Linked DNA regions of Homo sapiens: regions 1, 2 and 3 are each linked to region 4. The links come from fine-mapping of genetic effects on gene expression. A gene starts in region 4. Each other region holds a variant in brackets. All regions are shown on one strand. Distances are from middle to middle.

What was found.
Region 1: its variant is fine-mapped to the expression of CMTM8 in whole blood (INTERVAL, PIP above 0.99).
Region 2: its variant is fine-mapped to the expression of CMTM8 in whole blood (TOPMed, PIP above 0.99).
Region 3: its variant is fine-mapped to the expression of CMTM8 in whole blood (TOPMed, PIP 0.93).

Annotation. Positions count from the first base shown.
Region 1 is chr3:32,299,587-32,305,508 of GRCh38, reverse strand. All of the region lies in intron 1 of CMTM8 (CKLF like MARVEL transmembrane domain containing 8), which reads right to left. Among named protein-coding and RNA genes, the nearest start is that of CMTM8, 64 kb to the right of the region's middle. The variant A/G (reference allele first, on the strand shown) is at 2,651.
Region 2 is chr3:32,277,849-32,283,770 of GRCh38, reverse strand. The region is part of intron 1 of CMTM8 (CKLF like MARVEL transmembrane domain containing 8); the gene reads right to left. Among named protein-coding and RNA genes, the nearest start is that of CMTM8, 42 kb to the right of the region's middle. The variant A/G (reference allele first, on the strand shown) is at 2,534.
Region 3 is chr3:32,256,098-32,262,019 of GRCh38, reverse strand. All of the region lies in intron 1 of CMTM8 (CKLF like MARVEL transmembrane domain containing 8), which reads right to left. It also overlaps the pseudogene KRT18P15. Among named protein-coding and RNA genes, the nearest start is that of CMTM8, 20 kb to the right of the region's middle. The variant G/A (reference allele first, on the strand shown) is at 3,036.
Region 4 is chr3:32,236,054-32,241,975 of GRCh38, reverse strand. CMTM8 (CKLF like MARVEL transmembrane domain containing 8) reads right to left here and starts at 3,296. Exons shown (of 4, transcript NM_178868.5): 1 at 2,857-3,296. The coding sequence starts at 3,003. RefSeq lists a silencer at 3,283-3,492.

The DNA of each region.
Region 1 (5,922 bases), 64 kb before region 4:
CTTCATTTTCTTGGAACACCCAGTATCTCATACACTGCACATATTTGTCAGTAAAATAACTTTCTATCCTGTAAAGCAGTTTTTCCAACCTTGCCATCAGTGACATTTTGTACCTGATGCCAATACCACCCTCCTAGTTGTGACAATCAAAAATGTCTCCAGTCGCAGGAGAATGGCGTGAACCCGGGAGGCTGAGCTTGCAGTGAGCAGAGATCACGCCACTGCACTCCAGCCTGGGTGACAGAGCGAGACTCCGTCTGAAAAAAAAAAAAAAAAGCCTCCAGTCATTACCAAATGTTCCCTAGGGAAAAAAACTGCACCCTGACTGAGAACCACTGCCTTAGCCGCTTGAGTCCATAAAGCCACAACTCGAAGATGGCTTTGTAGAAACATTTAATATGTTTGAAACAAAAATGTTTGAGATTAGGAATTACATCACTCTCTACCTAATGCCGCCCAAGGGAGATTTAGATTGCCAAAATATTTCTGTCTTAAAGAGATGGTTCTCAGCCACTAGCCCAAAACTAATGTTTTAGTTCACTACCCTATGGGGAAAGATTAAATACAAAATTCACTTGAGCTTTCTCATCTATGCAGAAATATTCCTCCTCATAAGCTTTAGTCAAACCTTTTATTTACAAAGTTTAAATCTGTCTCCTTAAGTCAATGGCATAGGCTGCTGATTTCTGTTATACTGCAGAAGCTGTTTATCTAGCTGGACCTGCTAAAGCAGATGTTCCTACTCTGTACTATTAACTGGAACATGAAAAACCAACATGTAACCAAGCTGAAAGAATTCTGCCTCATTTATCTTGTGTGTGCCACCAGGGCAAACACCAGGCATTTTAATAACCTCATCTGGACCTTCGGTAATCATTGCAGGCTACTAACTCCAGACAAATATTTGCCTTGGAGGTTTCTCTATGGAGAGACAGAAGTAAACTAAGCTTCTTTTGTTCATATAGATTGAGTATGACAATCTAGAAAATACAGAGCACTCACATCATTCATTTCTTGTAACTATACAAATAAAGGAGCAATGGAATTGATTCTACAAAGATCTGCTGGAATACATTTCCTTTATACTTTTCCTTTCCCCCATGCCATCTCCAACAACAAATCAAAGTACAGCTGAGAAGAACATCAGTGGATGTTACAATCAGAGAGGCCAAGGCTGTTGGGGGAAAATTCATTCTCCTTGTCTCAGAATAGGACACCCATTTTCAGCCCCCTGCCAACACCCAAACTTTTACATGAGAATAGGGTCCCTTTTATAAGACCTGGCAGATGCTACTGTAACTAAGTGACCAAACTTAGCAACACTGATTTTGGTACAACCAATTATCATGCGATCACAACCAGATACATGCCAGCACCACCTGGGCTGTATTCTTACCCAAATGGTCTAACAGGCTGAGGATTTTTCTAGATTAAAGGTGACTAAAGAAACATGGCAACTAAAAGAAATCTGTCGATCCTTGACTGGATCCTCAAACAAAAGGCTGAAGTAAAGGACATTCTTGGGACAAAGTAGAAAATTTGAATATGGACTGCATCACATATTAGTGAATTGATGCTAAATTCCTTGAGTGTGATGAAGGTATTACAATTAATTTAAATAATTTAATAGTTATTTAATGATTTTTGGTAAATACATACTGAAATACCTAGGGAATAAATGTCAGGCCTGCAACTTCCCAGTGGTTTAACAACAACCACAACAAAAATAAGATCACACACATTCACACAGCGAGAGAAACCAGATGTAAAAAAATGTGAGCTGGCAAATGTAAGTGAGGAGTCTACAAAATTTAAGCGAAGGAGTCTATATTGTTCTACTTTCCTGCAGATTTGAAATTTTTCAAAATTACAGTTGGGAGGGGGAGGGGGGAAGCTCGGTTACCATCAATGTGTAAACAAGCCAGAATGTTTCAGAAATGAAACATACGGGAAGAAAGTATGAGAACCAAACAGTATTTCCTGCCTCAAATTTGAAGATAAGCGACCCAATTTACTTTTAAGTGTTTGGAGGCATAAGATAAAAACAAAAACGAAACACCTGAATCTAAACCAACACATTTGACCCTGTCACCACATTAAGAACGAGCTGAACTCAGACATTTTGATGCATCAGAGTTCTCAAAAATACTAGAAATATCTCACTGATATGATAATGGCCTTGAAGATTTATGCAGATACGAAATGAATTCCAAGCAAAGCATTAAAGTAATCTTCATAACTTGTTAACACAACTGCTCTCAAGAGAATGTTGAGAAATCTTGCCAGGAAAGGCCTACAGTTCCCAGCAAGCAGTAACTATCAGCAACTTAAGAAGACAAAGATCTTTTTTAAAAACCTTACTTATTTGCAACCTACATTTGTTTTGGATCCTAGACGCCTGCAATTTGGACACTCAATTTAGAGTTTATGTAATAGTGATCAAAAAGGATTTGCTGGAAGGGAGAAAGCTGTGCAATCGGGCATGTGATTGTAAGAGCTGGGGGTCAAAGAGACGAAATTGGTTTAATAAAACAAAATGGGGCCACCTGGGTATTTAAGTGTGAGACCAGGTCTCTCTCCAAAGACAACAAAGTTCTACATCTAATGCCCCAGGGTTCCTTTGTTCAAATTCAGCCAATCTCTTCATGCC[A/G]TGGGTCTTAAAAGATCCTGAAGTTACAGACTTCAGGTACTTGGTGTGTATGCGCACAGGTACTTCATACACTTCGTGTGTGTGCGCACAGGTTTCCAAGGAGAGGGACCTTAGCTTTCTTCTTTTCTCAACAGATCCCTCACCTCCTCAAATAGGTGAAAAACCCATGCCTTGTGAAATTTGCTCCAATTTCTTCTCTGGGCTTGAAAAACCCAGGGAAATCCTAGCACTCACAAGTCCACTTCTAAATTCAAAAGGGCCTCTGATTCCTTCTCTTCTACTTCCATCTGTCTCACCACTGTTCCAGCTTTGTCAGGGGGCCAATCGCCTTTTGGGAGCCTTGTTTCATCTAATCCTCCCTTAGGCAAGGAAATCTTTGCTCTCAGACTTAAAACTAACTTTGAACTGGAAAGTGACCTAAGATGTCGGGAACAACCATAAACTGAACAGCATACAGAGGCAGAAAATTGCATTTTGTACTTTTCTATCCAATGCTGTGCTACTTGTTCCAATAAAGAATTAACTTCAAGGTAGTTATTTTGTGGGGGTATTTTGTTTTGTTTCTGAGACAAGGTCTTTGTCACCCAGGCTAGAGTGCAGTGGTGCAATCATAGCTCACGGCATCTCCAATTCCTGGGCTCAAGCAGTCCTCCCACCTTAGCCCCCACCTCCAAGTAGTTATGACACGTGCCACATTTCAGCTAATTAAATTTTTTTTTTTTTGTAGAGACAGGAATTGCCCATGTTGGTCTCCTGCCTTGGCCCCCCAAAGCGTTGGGATTACAGGCATGAGCCACCATGTCTGGCCTATGCTATTCTTATTAAGAAAAAAAAAAAAGTCAGCAATCAGTGATCACTCTTAATTCCACCGAAAGGAATTTGGGTCTATTCTATTTTTGTTGCAAAAATTTTAGCACCAGAAAGAATATTAATGACTATGAATTCAAGCTTTTCATTTGACATATGCAAAAACAAAAGTACTGTGATTTACCCAATGTCACATGGCTGGTTAGCCAGACTCGAAATGGAAACCTCTTGACACTCAGTCCAATGTTCTCTGACATCACCTGCCTTTTCACACCAATGCCCTCTGAAAAATACTATTTTTCTTTCTTTTTTTTTTTTTGTTTCATATCAATGATAAGAACTGCTGGATGGAAACCAAAATCATTCATGGAAAACTGTATGAGATTTCAGGAATCCCCAGTGCAATGTCACCGATGCCGGGATGAGTCATACTGCAGCTTGATCAAGTCCAGGTAGACAGAGGACCCCTCCCAAGGGCTGTGTCTCCCCTATCCCTCTTCATCCACCACTCTCCCTTGACCACTTTCTGCACCACTGGCAGGAGGGAAAGATAAGGTGGAATCCTTTTGCCCATATATTGAATGATTATTTAATTGCCCTGTTTCTAGTTTTAAAAACAACAGGATAGAAATTTATATATTGTTATTTAAAATGTCTTATGTTGCTTTATATATATATATACAGCTGTCAAAGTATAATTTTTTTTTGAAAAGGTCAGCTCTTGACTCATATAGAGTATGCATATGCTAAAGATTCTGTAACTTGATGAGTTTGTCAACTTAAGCAGAATGACAAAGCTGGCTCAAAGGTGGATGGCACAGAAACCTAAGTAGGGCAAAAAATCTGTGGAAAGATGAATGCCGGGATAAGGCTGGAAACTTAGAAACAAACCGGGTTAATGTCCTACCTGGCATATAGCAGTACCCCTGATGCTCCTTTTCTGCCATAAGAAATCCTTCCCATCTTAACTGGACAAAAATCATTTGCAATTTATTAATCTCAGCCATTTGTTTTTATAAGACCTGCAAGTGAAGGATGATTTTTATATTTTTAAATGGTTGAAAAAAATTAAAAGATTTTTTTTTTTTTTTGAGATGGAGTTTCACTCTTGTTGCCCAGGCTAGAATGCAATGGCAAAATCTCGGCTCACCACAACCTCCGCCTCCCAGGTTCAAGCAATTCTCCTGCCTCAGCCTCCCAAGTAAATGGGATTACAGGCATGTGCCACCACGCCCAGCTAATTTTTTGTATTTTTAGTAGAGATGGGGTTTCTCCATGTTGGTCAGGCTGGTCTTGAACTCCCGACCTCAGGTGATCCACCCACCTCAGCCTCCCAAAGTGCTGGGATTACAGGCGTGAACCACCGTGCCCAGCCTAAAAGAATATTTTATAACATAAAATGAAATATGAAAATGCTATGAAATCCAAATTTCAGTGTCTCTAAATAAAGTTTTATTGGAACAGTGTTAGGGCTCAGAAGACAATACCCTAAAGTAAGGGCTCAGAAGCAGTTTTTCTCTGACCTTGTCCTGCTTGCCTCTCAGCCTCATTCCCCCTTTCCCCCAAAAAGGCAAGCACAGATATTAGAATCCCTCTTCCCCAATGGAGATCATGGAAACCAAAACCCTTTTCCCCAAAGCCAGCCATAAAATCTAAAAATTTCCCCTACTTTTCTGTGTAAGAATTGGCCACAAAGAAATAATCTGACTGACCTTGTTTGGTTGTAGTTCATAAGACCCCCATTCCAGAAAGGGTCCTGCCCCATACCTGGAAGGAAATTATGCTGCAGAGAGTCCAAGAAGAATCTGAACAGACAGCCCTTGCTGGGTTCCCCCGCTCAGCCTATTAGCATTAGATCACACCCTTTTGGTCCAACCACAGTTCCACACAGCTATCCATTCATCATCAAACTGAAGCATAAAAATGGATAGCTTCCCCTGTATCTTTGGGTCTTCGATCTGAAGACTGCTGTGTCACGCAAAAGTATGATCAAAGAAATGTGTTATGCTTTTGTCTGTTAACCTTTTTGTTATAGAGGTGCTGGCCATGATTTTTATGATGGAGAAGAAAGGCATCATCCCTTTTCAGCACCTACAGTGGCTGTATCCATTCAGTTATGTATTACCCGTGGCTGCTTTCACACTATGATGGCAGAGTTAAGTAGCTACAGACAGTACATATTTTGGCCTACAAAGCCCAAAATATTTACTATCTGGCAGTCTGCAGAAAAACATTGCTACATTTTCCCCTAGATTATTAGATGATCTTTGCTGGGTTTGTCAGACAATGTTCTAGTAGGATATTAAAAGGGCACTCAGTCATCTTCCTGAACTTTTTTCTAAGTTTCAAGTACATTTTTCTTGAAGACTACCGTCAATGATAATTTAATTATAAATTTAAAAATAAAGAAGAGTATAACTGAATCATTTGTAACTCAAAGGATAAATGCATGAGGGAATAGATAC
Region 2 (5,922 bases), 42 kb before region 4:
GCTTATTCCTCCTCGGGGCCTTCCTGACATCTTAGTTCTCCAAGTGTGGAGGGTGGGACAGAGGGGAGGGGATGTATGTGTGCATGTAAAAAACAAGTTGTTTTTTGTGTCAAGATAAATCCTGAAAGGCAGACACAGTAAACATCCTGCTATGTAGGAGAGACCCATATGACGGTCAACTGCCCGGCCTGAAATGCCTAGACGTGTCCCGGGATCAATGGCACCTCAGTAAACTGTCGCCATCCTGTTCCGCAGGCTCCAGCTCATGCATGGGGAAGGAAGCTAACTCCCGGGGGACGTGCTGGTCACATTACATGCGCCTGCGATGTGAGCTCCCCGACTGCAGCACAGAAGCCAGATAGCAAGCGCTCAGTCTGAAGAGAAGAAACTCAAATGACTCTTCCCCCAATTGGAGCCAATTCACAAAGTTTTGCTGTATGACACGTTATAACATGATAAAACGGACTATCCCAAGGTGGAAAAGACAGAGAAATGTAAATACAGTAACAACAGTAATAGCAGGGACAAGATGACCACATGCTTCCCAAGGCTAAAGCAGGGATTCTCAACTTTTTTCATTATCATGCTCCCCCTAAGCATTTATAAACATTTCCTCCCCCTGTATGAAAAACTATTTTTCTTTCAACATTTATTTAGTGCGTGTTATGTGCAATTTAAGTACTAGGGATACAGCAATGAAAAATACAGTTTCTACTCTCACATAACTCATGTTCTAGTGGAAGCATCAGACCAAAAAAACAGTACATACATCAGATGGTAACAAATGCTATGGAAAAATACTAGGCAGGCTAAGGAGATAAGGGTTAACTTATTACACAGAATGTTCAGGGAAAGGAGGTGCTGAAATAAGACCTGGAGAAAGTGGGTTCTAGGCAGGGAGAAGAGAAAATACAAACACCTAGAGCTGGAGCATGCTTGCTGTGTCACAAAAGCAGCAAGGGGGCCAGAGCAGCTCACCCAGGAGTGGAGCGCAGGATATAAGGTCAGAGAGGTAAGGGAGGAACCCATGGGGTCTTGCAGACTGAAACTGAACAGACTGGCTCTCTCACTCCAAATGCAATGGGAAGTGGAATATCATGACACATCTTACCAGGATATCTCTGGCTGTTGTGCTGAGAGCAGACCGGTGTAGGGGGTCGGTTATAGGCAGGGAAATCAGCTAAGAGGCAATATAAAAATAATACAAGAGAGGATGTTAGTTTGGCTGAGGGTGATAATACTGCAGGTGGTAAGAATTGATAACATTCTGGGTATATATTTTTTTAATTTTTTTCTAATATCGCCAAATCACCATTCTCATAGCTAAAAATAATTAATGATAATATCCAATATCCAGTCAATATTCAAATAACCCTGATCATCTCATAATTATTTTATGGTTGCTTGGATCAATATCCAAATATGGTACATATATTGCAACTGACTTTTATCTCATAAATCTCTTTTAATCTATAGGCATCTCCTCTATTCCTTTTTCTTTAAAATTTATTTTTTGAAAAAACTGGGTCATTTGTCCCGTACACACAATCTAGATTTTGCTGACTGTGTCCTCATGGGTTCTTTTAATATGTTTCTCTGTTCTCTGTATTAACCCAAAACTGATACTTAGCCTGAGTTGCCTATGAGACATATCAGAAGAGATGGTGAGTGGGCAGATACAAATCTGGGATCCAGGGGAGAAGTCTAGGCTGGGGCTAGAAATGAGGACCTATAGAGAGAGTTGAAAGCCATGATTCTGAGGGAATGAGTGTAGACGGAAAAGAGGAATGTTCTAAGGCCTGAGCCCTGGCACTCTTGTATTTACAGTTGGGGAGATAAGGAGGCACCAGGAAAGAAGATGAGGTACACATCCAGTGAGATAAGAAAAAAAAATTAGGACAGTGACCTTTGAAGCCAAGAAAATAAGATATTTAAAGGATTGAGGGGAGGGGTCAACTGTGTCAATGTGGCCTTCAGGCTCAGTATGATAAGCACTGAAAGTTGACCATTTGGCTTGGCAAAACAGACGTCACTGGTGCCCTTGGTAAGAGCTGTTTGGGTAGACTAGTGACAAGGCTGATTGGAGAGGGTTCAGTCAGGAGCAGGTGGGATGAGAGGAATTAGGAAATAAAGACAACTCATTCAAGAAGTTTTGCTGCAAGGTGGAGCAGAGAAAAAAGGTGACAACTGTTGAAGAATGAGGGACATATCTTCTGGAGGGAAGATATGTTACAGTTTTCAAGATGGCATTCATCACAGCATATTATCTCCAGGAAATTTTAACATCTCAGATAAACTGTCTATTTAGATACTACATGTATATATGTACTTTATTCATTTAAAAAAGGTAAGATTTCCCTCCCTACCCCCAAGAACCAGTTTTTGCTCCCTTGCAAGCAACACCACCCCTTGATGAGAATGCATGTGCTAAATTAATCAAAACGTTCCAAGAGAAGAGACGAATCCAGCTGCCTGACTCTTCCAACTTTTATTAATGTAAAGAGTTCTTTTGATGGGTAAGAGAAATATTTTC[A/G]GGTACAGTGTAGCCACTAGAGAGGTGCCAGGGAAAACAGAGCTTACAGCTAAACATGTGCTCCTACACAAAATCCTGCCATGGTGGGCCTACAAGGTATCTCTACATACTAATAGTCATACACAGGAGCATCAAACCTCAGGATTGTCCCCATGCAGAGATGGGGCTTGGGGAGTTCCAGGATAACTCCCTTCAGAAATAGTTGGGTGCACTGAATTAACAGTCTACCATTTAGAGTCAGGAAGATCTGGTGTGAATCCCACTTCTGCCGCCTCCTGGTTGTGACCTTAGGTCACGATAATCTCTCTCACCCTCAGCTGCTTTATTTATAAAATGAGACAAAGGTAGTTCCAAATATAATTGTCACTTTTTTTTTTTTTTTTTTTTTTTTGCCTATTTTCTCTCGTGTTGGAGACCTACCTTTCCTTCAATGTAATTTGAGTAGGGTCGACTCCACCCCAGGTACCAGAAGTAGACAGATGACCCAGGTATGGCCAGACTACTTATGTTACCAGTGACGGGTCTTGACTGTGAGTCATCCAGGTTCTTGGCACTTTGAGCAAAGAATTGGACAAAACACACAAATGAAGCAATGAAACTACAGATTTTTGAAACGAAAGCACACTCCACAGTATGGGAGTGGGCTCAAGCATGCTGGTTATGGAATTTTCTGGGGTTTAAATACCTTCTAGAGGTTTCTCACTGGTTACTTGGTTACAGCCTATGTAAATAAAGAAGTGGCCCATGACCAGTCTGATTGATTGCAGAAGGCAACCAATCAAAGGCTGAAGTGAAGTTACAAAGTTATACCCCTATGCAAATAAAGACTAGGCCCACGACCAGTCTGATTGGTTGCAGAAGGGGACCAATCAGAGTACTTTCCATTTTCCATCTGCCACGAAGAAAAAGTGGGTGGGGGTGCAAAGGAAGTAGCTTATGATCCTTTTGTTACTTGGGCATGGAAAGTTGGGGTTTTCCTTTTAATTCCATTCTAGGAAATCAGCGTGAATCAGCCTTAGGTTCCCTGCTTCCAGACCCTATTCTCCCCCCTCACTTATGCCTGGCCACATTGACTGGACTGAGAATGGCCATGTGACCTGAGCTAGGTCAATCAGGGACTTCCTCCTGATTGGTGGCCACTACGAAGTGCTTGGTTACCACTATGAAGCAATAGATTTATGGTTTCTTAAAAAAATCACTAATTATATTGACAGTGGGGTGTTAAAGTCTCCCATTATTAATAACAGACACTTCTCAAAAGAAGACATTTATGCAGCCAAAAAACACATGAAAAAATGCTCATCATCACTGGCCATCAGAGAAATGCAAATCAAAACCACTATGAGATATCATCTCACACCAGTTAGAATGGCAATCATTAAAAAGTCAGGAAGCAACAGGTGCTGGAGAGGATGTGGAGAAATAGGAACACTTTTACACTGTTGGTGGGACTGTAAACTAGTTCAACCATTGTGGAAGTCAGTGTGGCGATTCCTCAGGGATCTAGAACTAGAAATACCATTTGACCCAGCCATCCCATTACTGGGTATATACCCAAATGACTATAAATCATGCTGCTATAAAGACACATGCACACGTATGTTTATTGCGGCATTATTCACAATAGCAAAGACTTGGAACCAACCCAAATGTCCAACAATGATAGACTGGATTAAGAAAATGTGGCACATATACACCATGGAATACTATGCAGCCAGAAAAAATGATGAGTTCATGTCCTTTGTAGGGACATGGATGAAATTGGAAACCATCATTCTCAGTAAACTATCGCAAGAACAAAAAACCAAACACCGCATATTCTCACTCATAGGTGGGAATTGAACAATGAGATCACAAGGACACAGGAAGGGGAATATCACACTCTGGGGACGGTGGTGGGGTCGGGGGAGGGGGGAGGGATAGCAGTGGGAGATATACCTAATGATAGATGACACGTTGGTGGGTGCAGCGCACCAGCATGGCACATGTATACATATGTAACTAACCTGCACAATGTGCACATGTACCCTAAAACTTAAAGTATAATAAAAAAAAAATTAAAAAAAAAAATCACTAATTATAAGAAAAATACAGAACCGTGGGTGGCATCTTTGTCATCATCATGCAGAGAAACTCTTTCTAAGAATGAAGCTTATTCAGAAGAAAGCACAGCCAAGACACTGAGAAGAGAGACTGAGTCCTGCTATCTATTGAACTCCTGGTTCCAGCCATACCTGAGGCTTGACACATAGCTCAGCTTGTCAGATACACGAGCCAGTAAGTGCTCCTCCTTTTTGTTGTCATGGAAGCCAATTTAGCCACGTTTCCATCATCTACAGCTGTACAGGCTGTGACTAATACACTATTTCACTGTTAGATATTAAAAATGCTTTTAAGTTCTAGGAAGTGTCTTTCACTGAATGAACACTCAGTAAACAGGACTGACCCTTAGTCTGTTATGTACCCAGTGCTGTTCTGGGCATCAAGTATATAAAGGTAAGTAAACTAAAAGGTATTATGTAAAATTGGCAGCTTATATATTAGGATGGTTAACAGAGATAACTCAATTTGGGAAGGGAAGCATGGGGCTGCGTTATCCTGAGAAGGAGTTTGCCAGGCCTGAAAGGGAGGCCAGGTAATTCTAAACAGAGGCGGCAACAAATATAAAAGCATGGAGGTGTGTTGAAAGAGATGATCAGGGCACAGCTGAGAATGCAAACTCAAATGCCTACAGGGACCAAGCAGGTAACATAAATGAGTGAAACACATCAGTTACAAGAAAATAAATGACAATGACTCTTGACCTCAATTACGGGAAGACTGGAGAGAGCTGAGAATAGCAGCAAATAGGTGACTGCAAGGCCCCTCACAGCACAGAATATAGTTTGTCCATACCATCCGCTCTCACATTCTGCCTTTAGTAAGAAGTGGGTTTTAACTATTCACATGGCCACGTAGATGAGGACCACATTTCCCCAGCTTCATCTGCAGTCAGATGTGGCCATGCTGTACATTCTGACCAACAGGATGCCAGAGGAAATGATACATGTAACTTCCAGGTTGGATCTTGAAGAAAGGGATCCTCTACTTCTCCATCCTACTGAAGGCTGGAGCAGACAGGATGGTGGGAAATGAAGCAGTATCTTGGATCAGAAGATGGAACCCACTGCAGAGAACAGGGAAAACCGACAGAAGTGGGCAGCGTCTCTGACACCACGGAGCTATCATGTCTGCCCTGGGCAATTAGTGCTTTGACTGTCATGACAGAAAAACAAGTTTCCACCTTGTTTAAGCCACTTGTTTTGGTCTTTGTCACAACAGTCAAACATGCATCTTGACCAACACTCTTACATGCAGAGGGCAGCCACTTCTTGGCTCCAAAGGATTAC
Region 3 (5,922 bases), 20 kb before region 4:
CAGCCTAGAGCCTGCTCCTCCAACCCTACCAAAAATTTTGGAAGCCAACTAATGATGCATAATAAATCCCTTGCGGCTTCAACCAGCTACAGTAGATTGTCATCTTCAGTTGAACTCTAAGACAATGAATATTCTACTTTCCCATGAAAGGGACATATTACTAGGCTGGCACCATGAATCTCATGGGTGTGTACAGAGGATGGACAAGCAATCGGATGGCATTTGTTTCACACTGAACTCCACAAGGGTGTGGTTGACTCATTCATGTGTTATTTAAGAACTGTTTCCTCAAATCATGGTTCAAGTAGAAATGGAAATGAAAGAAAGGAGGGATTCCCCATAACCTGGGACTGGTTTATTATCAACTGAGACAATGAACGTGAAAACCCTTTAAATGGTAGAGTGCTCATCTAAGGAAAAGTACGGGCACCTTCCTAGAAACAGTGCTACTCATAAATCTTAGCAAAAACAAACAAACAAATGGTATTTTCCTGTCAAATTTTAGATTTAACCCTCTCTATGGGGTGAATAAAGGACCAAATGCCTACAAGGAATAAATGCCTCTTGAATTTCACCTCAAATTTGAAAACTTGAGTTTTTCCTACTATAATTTAATATATTTTTAAGCATATTTTTCTTTACATGTCTTAATTCCTATAATTGATCATTTGTTTAAATAAACATAGAAAGGTGCTATTTACCACTATATTCTAAGGGCTAGACACAGATTCTGGCACACGGTAAATATTTAACACATTTTTATGACAATACACAAGATATGTATTATTAACTTGGATTGTAAAACTCATAGCATTTTGTTTTCTTAGTTTTTATTCTTTTTTTTTTTTTTGAGATGGACACAGTCTCACTCTGTCGCCCAGGCAATCCTCCTGCCTCAGCCTCCCAAGTGTCTGGGACTACAGTCATGCACCGCCACACCTGGCTCATTTTTAAATTTTCTGTAGAGACATGGTCTCGCTACGTTGCTCAGTGTGGTCTCAAACTCCTGGCCTCAAGCAATCCTCTGACTTTGGCCTCCCAAAGTGCTGGGGTTACAGGCATGAGCCACTGTATCCAACCTTCATAGCATTTTAGACTGGGAAAGACCTTGAGGAGCTTAAGAATGAATACTAAGACATAACCTGAGACAAAGAAATAGCTGAAAAGTTTCCCTCTTAGGAACTAGGGTAGTATAAAATGATTTTCCCAAAATTAATCTATGTGTTATATAAAAATCCAATATAATCTAACAAAGGAAAGGAGGCACCAGCTGTGACTGTGAAAAAAATTATAAAGCTCTACTTGAAGAAGAAACATATAAACATGTGAAAACAGGGGGAAAAAAAAAAAACTTTAAAAAAATCACAGCTGGGATAGATTATCCTATCAGATGTTAACATGTAATCTAGAACTACAGGTATTAAAACATTGAAACAAAGAGTAGAACAGACTAGAAAGTATACAGTTGAACCCAAGCACATACAAGTAGTAAATGAAAAACAGAAAGCAATCCAGGTAAGGGAATGTACAATGAATTTACCAATATGAAATGTTGGGACAACTGAGTAGACATTTGAAAACAAAATTAGAGCCCAACTTTATATTTCTGCTGAAATGCATTTCAATATTAAAGTTAAATATTTTAAAGCACATGAAAAATATAGGCAAAATATTAACGTATAGTTCATTATATTTAGCTTTGTTAGCGAGATAATACTTTTTTTTTCCAATGACCTCTGAACTTTTTATTGGCCTCCTGATCCCCAAAGGGTACCCTGCTTCTGCTGGCTTAATGTCTCAGAACTTTGGTGTCGTTGGTCTCAGACACCACTTTGCCATCCACTCTCCGGCAGGTGGTGGTCTTTTGGATGGTTTGCATGGAGTTGCTGCTGTCCAGGGCATCACCAAGATTGAAGTCCTCGCCATCTTCCAACAGGCGATGGTAGCTGGCGATCTCAGCCTCCAGCTTGACCTTGATGTTCAGCAGGGCCTTGTACTCCTGGGCCTGGTGCTGTCCCTCTGCCTGGGTCAGTGCCAGCTCTGACTCCAGGTGCAGCAGGATCCCGTTGAGCTGCTCTATCTGCAGGGTGTAGCGGGCCTCCACCTCCCTCAGGCTGTTCTCCAGGCTGGCCTTCACATTTCTCATGGAGTCCAGGTCAATCTCCAAGGACTGGACTGCATGTCTCAGCTCCGTGAGTGGCATCTCAGCAGCTCCAACCTCGGCGGACTGTGTGGTGACCACTGTGGTGCTCTCCTCAATCTGCTGAGACCAGTACTTGTCCAGCTCCTCTCAGTTCTTCCGAGCCAGCTCGTCATATTGGGCCTGGATGTCTGCCATGATCTTGGCAAGGTCCTGAGATTTGGGGGCATCTACCTCCACGGTCAACCCAGAGCTGGCAATCTGGGCTTGTAGGCCTTTTACTTCCTCTTCATGGTTCTTCTTCATGAAGAGCAGTTCCTTCTTGAGAGCCTCGATCTCTGTCTCCAGCTGCAGCCGAGTGACATTGGTGTCATCAATGACCTTGAAGAGCCCATGAATGTCATTCTCCAAAGACTGGCACATGGCCAGTTCTGTCTCATACTTGACTCTAAAGTCATCAGCAGCAAGACAGGCATTGTCAATCTGCAGAACAATGCGGGCATTGTCCACAGTATTTGAGAAGACCTGAGCCCTCAGGTCTTTGATGGTCTTGAAGTAATGGCCCAGTCTCTGACCTGGGGTCCCTTCAGGGGATTTTGCTCTCCAGCCTCCAGTTCACGGTCTCCAGGCTCTTCACTTTGTCCAGGTAGGAGGCCAGGCAGTCGTTCAGGCTGTGCGTGGTCTCCTTCCCGCTCTGGATGCCTCCCATTTCTGCCAGACCCCTGGCCGTCCCTGCGGCCAGGTCCCCGGACCCCATGCCACCCTGGAAGCTGGTGGAGCAGGACACGGTGATCCGGGAACCAGAGCCACCCCCTGCCCTCCGGCGCCTGCATAGATGCTTGCTGCACTGCTGACTGGCTGGATGCCAGTAGCTGGGCCCCTGGACAGAGCCCAC[G/A]GACTGGCAGTTGGAGGAGAAGGTGGAACGAGTGGTGAAGCTCACGCTGTCCGGGGGCAGTGGGGTGGGGAAGCGAGGGGACAGAACTCAGGCTTTGCCGACATGTAGTGAGATAGTACTTTCTAAGGATGACACCCAACATGGGGAAAACAGTAAGACTGAGAGATTTGAAGATAAACTTTAGATTTTGTAAATAAAGTCACTATGGCTCTTTGGGAGGCCAAAGCAGGAGGATTGCTTGAGCCCGGAAGTTTGAGAATAGCCTGGGCACCAAACTGAGACCCCATCTCCACAAAAAATTAAAAAAATCAGCCAGGCATGGTGGCACATGCCTGTAGTCCCAGCTACTCAGGAGGCTAAAGTGAGAGGCTCACTTGAGCCTGGGAGGTCGAGGCTTTAGTGAACTGTGATCATGCCACTGCACTCCAGCCTGGGTGACAGAGCAAGACTATCACAAACAAAACAAAACAAAACAAAAAAAACAAAGCACTGTAAATAAAACTAAGGGACAAGCTAGAAAAAATATTCACAACACAGAAAGAGGGTCATTATTCCTTATATATGTTCAAAATGTCTATAAGTGAATAACAAAACTACTGAACTTCTTTGTAGCTAGGACCTCTTTATCCTTCCCAAATTCCACTGAAATGTCTCCCACTCCCAAATTAAAAAAATACGTAGTAGTGCCGAAAAGCTAGAAAGCAGCAACAGCAGTCTGGAGCAGTGAGAACTTCCTGGAAGGCACTTGAGAACAAACTATGATAAGCAAGGGAGTTTCTTGTCTGCAGCTCTGGAGCAGAAAATAGAGGACCTACTGAAAAAAACAGTCCTCCAAACAGACCCCCAGATAAACCAAAGATTAGAAGCAATAACCAAAGTTGGAGAGGGAATGAGTTAAGGGTAATCTGCTAAAGAGTACATTTAAAGCCCCCCTCCCTCCAGCAGCGACTTCTGGAAATAGTCCCCAGGATAAAGATTTGAGATTTCCAGATGCTTCAATAAGCTATTTGCACACATCTTAAGAAAGCCCATGCAGCCCCACTACCCTAGCTTCCCCCTCCCAGCCCTGCCAATATTTCCTTTCCTCTGAAAAACCACCAGATGCATATCACACGATGAAAACCTGTATTCACTGCCGAGGTACAGAGATTCTCACTTAAGCTGAGCAAACAGTCTCCAGTCATCTCATCTACTATTACAAACATGGACAACCATTAATCACCAAATGACTGAAGAAAACAGCACAGGAGAAGCAACAGATTCAACAAGCAGAAGTGGTCTCTCGGTAAACAAAGAAAATACACTCAAGATCCTTAAAGTGATTCAATAAAAAAGAGATCAGACTAAAAGCAAACATTTTAGAATGACTAATTGTTGGGAATTAAAACTATTAAAACCATAATAAAGCAATAGATGGGTTGAAAGGCAGAGCATACTTAACTGGAAATTTGAATTTGGGCTTAAAGTGTAATTTTTCTAGAAAATTACACTATTTGCAAAGTACAAAGAGAAATATGAAAGAAAAATTAGGAGATATTGAAGACAGTTTAATCTCTCCTGGACCTCCTGGATTGAATAAAGATTCCTTTAGTGGAGAAAACAAAGAACCAATGCAGAAAATAAGAGAAATCTCCCTATGCCGAAGCTAGATTTGTATAGTACTTATAAAGAGCCCAAAAAGTGGCAAGGAGGACAAATAAAGAATGCCTTTCCAGTGTTGTGGCTCACTCCTGTAATCCCAGCACTTTGGGAGGCTGAGGTGGGTGAATCACTTGAGGTCAGGAGTTTGAGACCAGCTGGGCCAACATGGCAAAAACCCGTCTCTAACAACAATACACAAATTAGCCGGGCATAGTGGCCATGCCTGTAATCCCAGCTACTGGGACATAGAATTGCTTGAACCCAGGAAGCAGAGGTTGCAGTGATCTGAGATCATGCTTCTTCCAGACATACAGTGGTATCTAGGGAGATATCACCATAGATCCCTGAAGATAGGGAAACAATTTCAAAAGCTTCTAGGGAGGGAAAAAAGACCATTTAGTTACTTAAAAGGAAAAGAGAACCTGATTCCCACAGAGGAGTGGATTTGAAGCCCAGTGAAAGCTAGCCCTCTGACAAACATTATAGAAGTTACAGTTTACTGCAATAGATGCAAGGAATATATTCTCAGCAGGGAACACCAGGAAATATCAGGCTAGAGCTGTCTTGAGAGAAGGAACTTTGTCTCCCTAAGTCCTCCCAGATTAGAGTGAGGGCAGGGAGAGATCCCACCAGGACTTGGGAAACTCGAAGGAAGCCTTTAACAATCTTTTATTCCAAACCACATCAACCTGAAGAAACTTCCCTATAATTATCTTACATGGTTACAAAACTGCCTTTCATAAGCCATTTCTCCTGTATATAACACTCCCATTTCACCTACAATTTATTGCTACACCACCAGTGCTACATTTGCATGGGTAGTAGTGCAAGACATCATTCACACAAGACTCTGCTGTAACGAAGTCTGTGGGAATGCACATTCATGAATGGACAAGGTCTGGGAGGTACTGAGCCTAACAGGCCTGTTTAGATACTACCAGACCATCAAGTCTCTTATTAACAACACTGAATGCAGCCAGGTACAGTGACTCACACCTGTAATCCCAGCACTCTGGGAAGCCGAGGCAGAAGGCTTCCTTGAGCCCAGGAATTGGAGACCCGCCTGGGCAACAAAGTGAGACTCCTATCTCTACAAAAAATAAAAAAAAATTATCCAGGCTTGGTGGTGCACACCTGTGATCCCACCTGCACAGGAGGCTGAGGCTGCATTGAGCCATGTTTGAGCCACAGCATTCCAGCCTAGGTGACAGAGTGACACCCTAATAACAACAAAACAAACCAAAAA
Region 4 (5,922 bases):
GACGATTCTGACAGAATACCTGATGTCTCTCAGCTTCTTGATAGGAGACTTAAACAACTAGGGTTAAATTAGTGACTAAATATCTGGAGAAATTATGAAATGAGAAAAGAGAATTACTAACACCAGGGCAAACAAGAAATTGGGCAGGAAAGGAAAAGCATTCATAGTCTACGCACTGGGTCAGTTGTAAGTGGTATTTACAGTGTCATAGGTCAACACTGGCTGCTGATCTAACCCAAATCACCTGAAGACTATACAGATGCCCCTTGACTTAACAATGAGGTTACATCCTGATAAACCCATCCTAAGTGGAAAGTATCCGAAGTCAAAAATGCATTTAATACCCCTAGCCTACCAAACATCATAGCTAAGCCTAGCCTATCTTAAACGTGCTCAGAACACTTAGGTTAGCCTACAGCTGGCAGAATCACCCAGCAGCACAGCATGCTGGAGAGGATGGGTGGTTTGCGCTGGTGATGGCATGGGTGGCTGAGAGCTGACCAGCATCATGAAAAAATATCTACCGAATATCATTAGCCTGGGAAAAGACCAAAATTCAAAATTCGAAGTATGATTTCTACTGAATGCATACTGCTTTTACAACATCTGTAAAGCTGAAAATTCCTAAGTTGAACCATCAGAAGTGTTTGGACCTATATTGGGAGACAGGAAGAGGGTATGTATAATTGGAGGCAGGGAAGAGGGCATCCCAGCTAAAGCCTCATCTTTCAGAGTAGAAAGGCAATGGATAATGTCTATGACTGGGTGGGTGAGGGAACACCAATAAACAGCATTATAAACACGTTGTTTAGAGCTCAAAGAGATGAAGACACTGGGAGAAACTTATATTTCTGCCTGTAGGACCGAATCTTTAAAATATGTGCATAAGGTGGGGCACAGTGGTTCATGCCTACAATCCCAGCACCTTAGGAGGCCAAGGCAGGAGGATTGCTTGAGCCTAGGAGTTTCAGAGCAGCCTGGGCAACACAGAGAGACCCCGTCCCTAGAAAAAAATTAAAAATTATCCAAGTGTGTTGGTGCATGCCTGTGGTCTCAGCTACTTGGGAGGCTGAGATGGGAAGATCGCTTGAGCCCAAGAGGTCAAGGCGGCAGTGAACCATGATGGTGCCACCGCACCTCAGCCTGGGAGACAGAGCAAAACCCTGTCTCAAAACAAAACAAAACAAACAAAAAAGGTGCATAATTAGCTCTGTCAAAAATAAAAACTATAGTAGTAATAAGGGTGATTTTGCTTACATGTTTTCCCATCTTTTTCAAAACGCTTAATGAAATCTAAAAGGATACATGCTAACATGTCAACAGTGATTATTTCTAGTAATGGGATTGTGGGCCACTTACATTTCTTTCACTTTTGTATTTCCTGAAAAAGCGCAGTACACAGAGCATATCGATAATAAATCAGAAAAAAACCCAAAGGCGTTATACTTCATGCCTGGCCCAAATCCACCCCAAGGTAGAAGGCCCATCTCTGTCATTTTAGCTTTTGTTTGCGCTGCTGAAGCAGAGGAGCCTGCCAACTCCTTCATTTGCACAGCAAATATTTGTTGAACTCCTAAAAGCTAGGCCCTGCAAGGCGATTCCAATACCTTCAGCTTTTGAGTCTCCTGAAGTCCTCAATACTCGCTGAGGGAACCAGCTGGGAGAGGAGCTAAGCCAACACTTCTCATACCTTATGTGCATTATGACCACCAGGGGCTTCATAGAGCAGGTCCGGGTGGTATCTGAGACTGGGGGAGCAAGCAAGCTACTTGAGGTACACAAGATTTACTTCAGGTTTCTCAAAGGAACCGCCCAGGTCTTCAGTCACTTCTGCACCATGATGGTGTGCCCATTCTCTAACTCCCACATAGGCTCATTTTCAATTCCCAAATATTTAACAAAAGTCTGTGAGAGATGACAGAGGGGCACTGCTGGGGCAGCTGGAAGCTGTCTCAACTGCTTGCAGTTATGAGCACGGCCCTGCAGAAAGGCAGGCCTGGGTTTGAATCCATGCTTCACCATCCACCGGTGTGATTTACGTCCCCTCTCTAGGCCTTCACAGGGGAGGGTGGTCGTTGGATTACACGAGGGTATGAGGACATCTAAAGGGCTTGACAAGATCCTGGTACACGAAGAAGACTCAAACAGTGACCACCTCTAACTGCTGACAGGACTCCAGTCCTTTCTCAGCTATGAAGGACTGGCTGGGACTTCTGGGAAGATCACGTGAGTTTTCAGCCTCTATGCCCTCCAATGAAGAGAAGAACGCCCATGCCCTGCCTCCTTCCCAGGAATGTTCTGAGCCTAAACCAGGATGTGCACAGCACCATGCAAAAGACCTCTTTGGTCCTAAAATAGGTTATGGCACTCAGATTTTATTCAGTAAAATTTTCCTGACTCACCTCAATGTTACTACCAGGGAGATAATTAGGAAAAGAAAGAAGCCCTTTCCTCTTCCCCTGATCTTAGGAAGCTTTATTTTCAGGGAGGAGGCCATCCACGTGGAGATCAGGTGAGAAAGGCACCAGGTGTCTCTGACACTCAACACAAACTCAATAGCCACTAAGCCAAGCTTCCTGCTCCCAGGATCTGCCGCCGCCACCGAGAGGACCCAACAAGCTGAATTTCTCCCACAGCAAGACATCCTGAGGATCACAACCCTTTCTTCCCAGGACAGCCCGAGTTTCCTGGACCTTGTTTAGAGTCTTTCACTTTGGGAAGAAGGCGAGGCTGAGCAAAAACGGTTCCCTAAAGCCCGCGGGAAGATCTGAGCAGGCTCCATCCCGAGAAGCACGGCGGAAGCACGCGCCGGGGTCCAGCTGAGCCCCCCGCCACCCCCGGCCCGTCGGCACTCACGATCTCGGCCACGATGAGGAAGCCGGGCAGGGTGCGGAGGAACTCCCGGTCGTAGGCGAAGCTGCTGCTGCTGGTGGAGAAGTTCTCTGCGAAGGAGCTGGCGGTGGTGGTGACTGTGTGCGAGCGGGCGCGCTGCGGCTCCTCCATCGTCGAGCCACTGCCGGGCTGGCGCGTCCCCAGGGACCCCGGCGGGTCTGGGGCTGGACGCGCGGCCCTGCGCCCTGGGGACACAGGCGCGGGGGAGGGGAGCGCGGCCCGCGCGGGGCAGGAGGTGCGAGGGGGGCGCCCGCCGGGGGCTGTCCAGGCGCGGCGGGTGTCCCTCTAGTGCGCGGTGCCCCTAGCGCCTCGGTGCGCGGGCTCCCGAGCTGCGCTGGGGCCCTAGAGGAAGAGGAGAGCGAGCGAGGGGAGGCTGCCGGGCAGCCGGGGAAGGCGGTGGAGGCCCGGAGGAGGGGAGGGGGCGGGGAGAGGGGCGGGCGGGAGGCGGGCAGGAGAGGGACCGCCCCGCGGAGGCGCCGCGGACGCCCGCCCTCTTCACCTGTTGCCCGACTCCCAGCGGCGGAGAAGGCGCCGCGTCGCACCCAGGGTGGCTGGGTTGGCAGCCTGGCGGGCGGCGCGGAGGAGAGGGCGCAGGGGTCCTTCTGGCCGTCTTCCGCTCCCCCTCCCGGCCTTTACTTCTGTCAGGCCCCGCCTGGCCCAGGCCCGCAGCCTGTTTCCTTCCACCTGGGCGGGTCGGGGGCTGCGGGCATTGGGGCCCCTTAAGGAAACCCAGGCCTCCAGGGACTCCGCCGCTCCAGGACTCGGCGCGGAGGGAATGACTGAGCGACGACCGAGGCAGGGGGTGATGTGGTACCTCGAATGCTGTGGAAATGGCAGGAATGATGACCCGGCCGGACCTTAGACCCGAGATCGATGAGAGGCCGCCAGCACTGCCCGGGAGACGGCCCGCTCTTCTCCCCCTCCTGCTGCGGCCGCCGCCAGAGCCCGGTGTTATTTCCTGCCCCTCCTGTCGGGAACAATTTGAGGAACCAACTTAATCGCTTGGCTTTGAGGGCGCGACGCTTCCAGGCGCTCTCCGCGGCTCTGTCCCGCGGACCGGTGGAGCCTGGGTGACGGCGCCTGGGCCGGAGGAGGGGAGATGTTTGGGGTCCCTGGCCAGGATGAATCAGCGTAACCGTCCCGTCACCCTCGGGGAAAAAAAATGTTTCAAGAAGGCTTGAAGGGTGTGATTTGTGTAATGTTAACTTTAGGACAAATGAGCTGTGCTTTCCTGGCATGGGAAGGGGATGGGGGTCCTCATTTAGTGAGGCAGTTTGTAACAGGGTCAGGGAAGAACTGAGCTCGGCTGCGTGCGTTTATCGGCTGTATGACCCAGAGCGAGTGGCTCTAGTTTTTGGACCTCAGTAATGCCATCTCTAAAATGCAGGCTTTGACAGATGGACCTCTGAACAAAAAGATTATCTTCCGCTTGGTCCCTCCTTCTATTTTGTGAAAGGGTAGCAAGAAACATTTTATCTGGAAGCCACCAAAAGAAAAGGAAATAATCTTTGGCTATAAATCGAGGGTATCTTTGATTCACAGTGAAGGCATTTCTGCTGATCTGTTCCAAGACAGGTTAAAAACGAGATCAGAAGGGACATTTTCTTCACAGTGTCTTATCAAGTGTGCTGAGAAGAAAGCAAAAACGACAATCTAATAAAATAAAACAAGGAATTAGTGTCTTTTAAGTCTAGGGCCTAGCCAGGAAGACCTCCAGGAGTAAAAGTTAAGGCTTCAAAAGCATGGCAAAGATGTAGATTTGGAGAGATTCCATCCATGTGCATTTGGTAAGCACCTTGGGCTGGTGGGTAAATTCTTAAAATTTAAAATATAGCACTTCTCCCTGGAGCAGTAGTTCTCAAAGTGGTCCTTGGACCAACAGCAGGTAAGTTCCCTGGGAACTTATCAAAAATGCAAGGTCTCAAGCCCCACCCCCAGACCCTCTGAATCAGAAACTCTGAGGGTGGAGCCAGGAAGCTGTGTTTGAACAAGCCCTCCAAAAGACACTGATGCATGCTGAAGTTAGCTGCTGCTTTAGAGAAACTGTTAATGAGTTTGGGGAAATAAGAGATACATACATGAAATGGCTGGAGGAGACTCAAGCATTATGCATGACATTTAGTGAACGTAAAAGACGGAGTCTAGACAACTTTATTTCCATAATATTAACAAAGGACAATCCTCTCTTAAAATTCCTGGGGTCAGATGAATTTCTAAATTCAGATTTTGTTTTTCAATTTAGAAAGGTAAAATGTGCATGTACCATATATTACATAATACCTTTGGTAAGGTCTGGGGTGACACTCTAATATACTAATTTTCTGCAAGGGAAATCATGAATGACATAAGTGTATGCTTGGATTATCTACTGCAATGTAATAAATGTTCACAAAATATTAGTGGCTTAAAATCACCATTTTATTTGCTCAGAAATCTGTTGTGTCAGGAATTTGGGAAGGGCTTGGCTGGCAGGTTCTTCTGCTTTGCATGGTGTGATTGGAGTCATTTACTCAGCTGCTTTCAGTTGGTGACTTGGCAGGGCCAGAAAGTCCAAAAAGTCTTCATTCCCATTTGAGCATTTCAGTGCCCTTTCAACTTGGGCTTTCTAACAGTATGATAAGCTCATGGTGGTTGGACTTCTACCTGGCAGCTGGCTACTGGAAGAGACTTTCTAAGAGGGGCAAATGCAGAAGCAGATCTCTTAAGGCCCAGCCCTGAAGGTTACACGGACTCATTTCCACCACATTCTATTGGTCTAAGCCAATGAATGACAAGGCCAGCCAGAGTCACGCAGAGGGGAAACAGATACCACCTGTGGATGGGAGGAGCAGTAAAGAATTGTGGCTGTCTTTTAATCTAGGTGAGATAAAGACAAAGACAATAAATAGCTTCACATCTGTTTAGGTTATGTTTTTCTACCAAATATGTTTTCTGCAAGCTCAGGAAAAAAAATTTTGGTTTCAGCTTTTGGGATTTCAGAATCACAGAGAAAAAATTATACACTGGTTGCTTGAAAACTAGCTGCCCCTT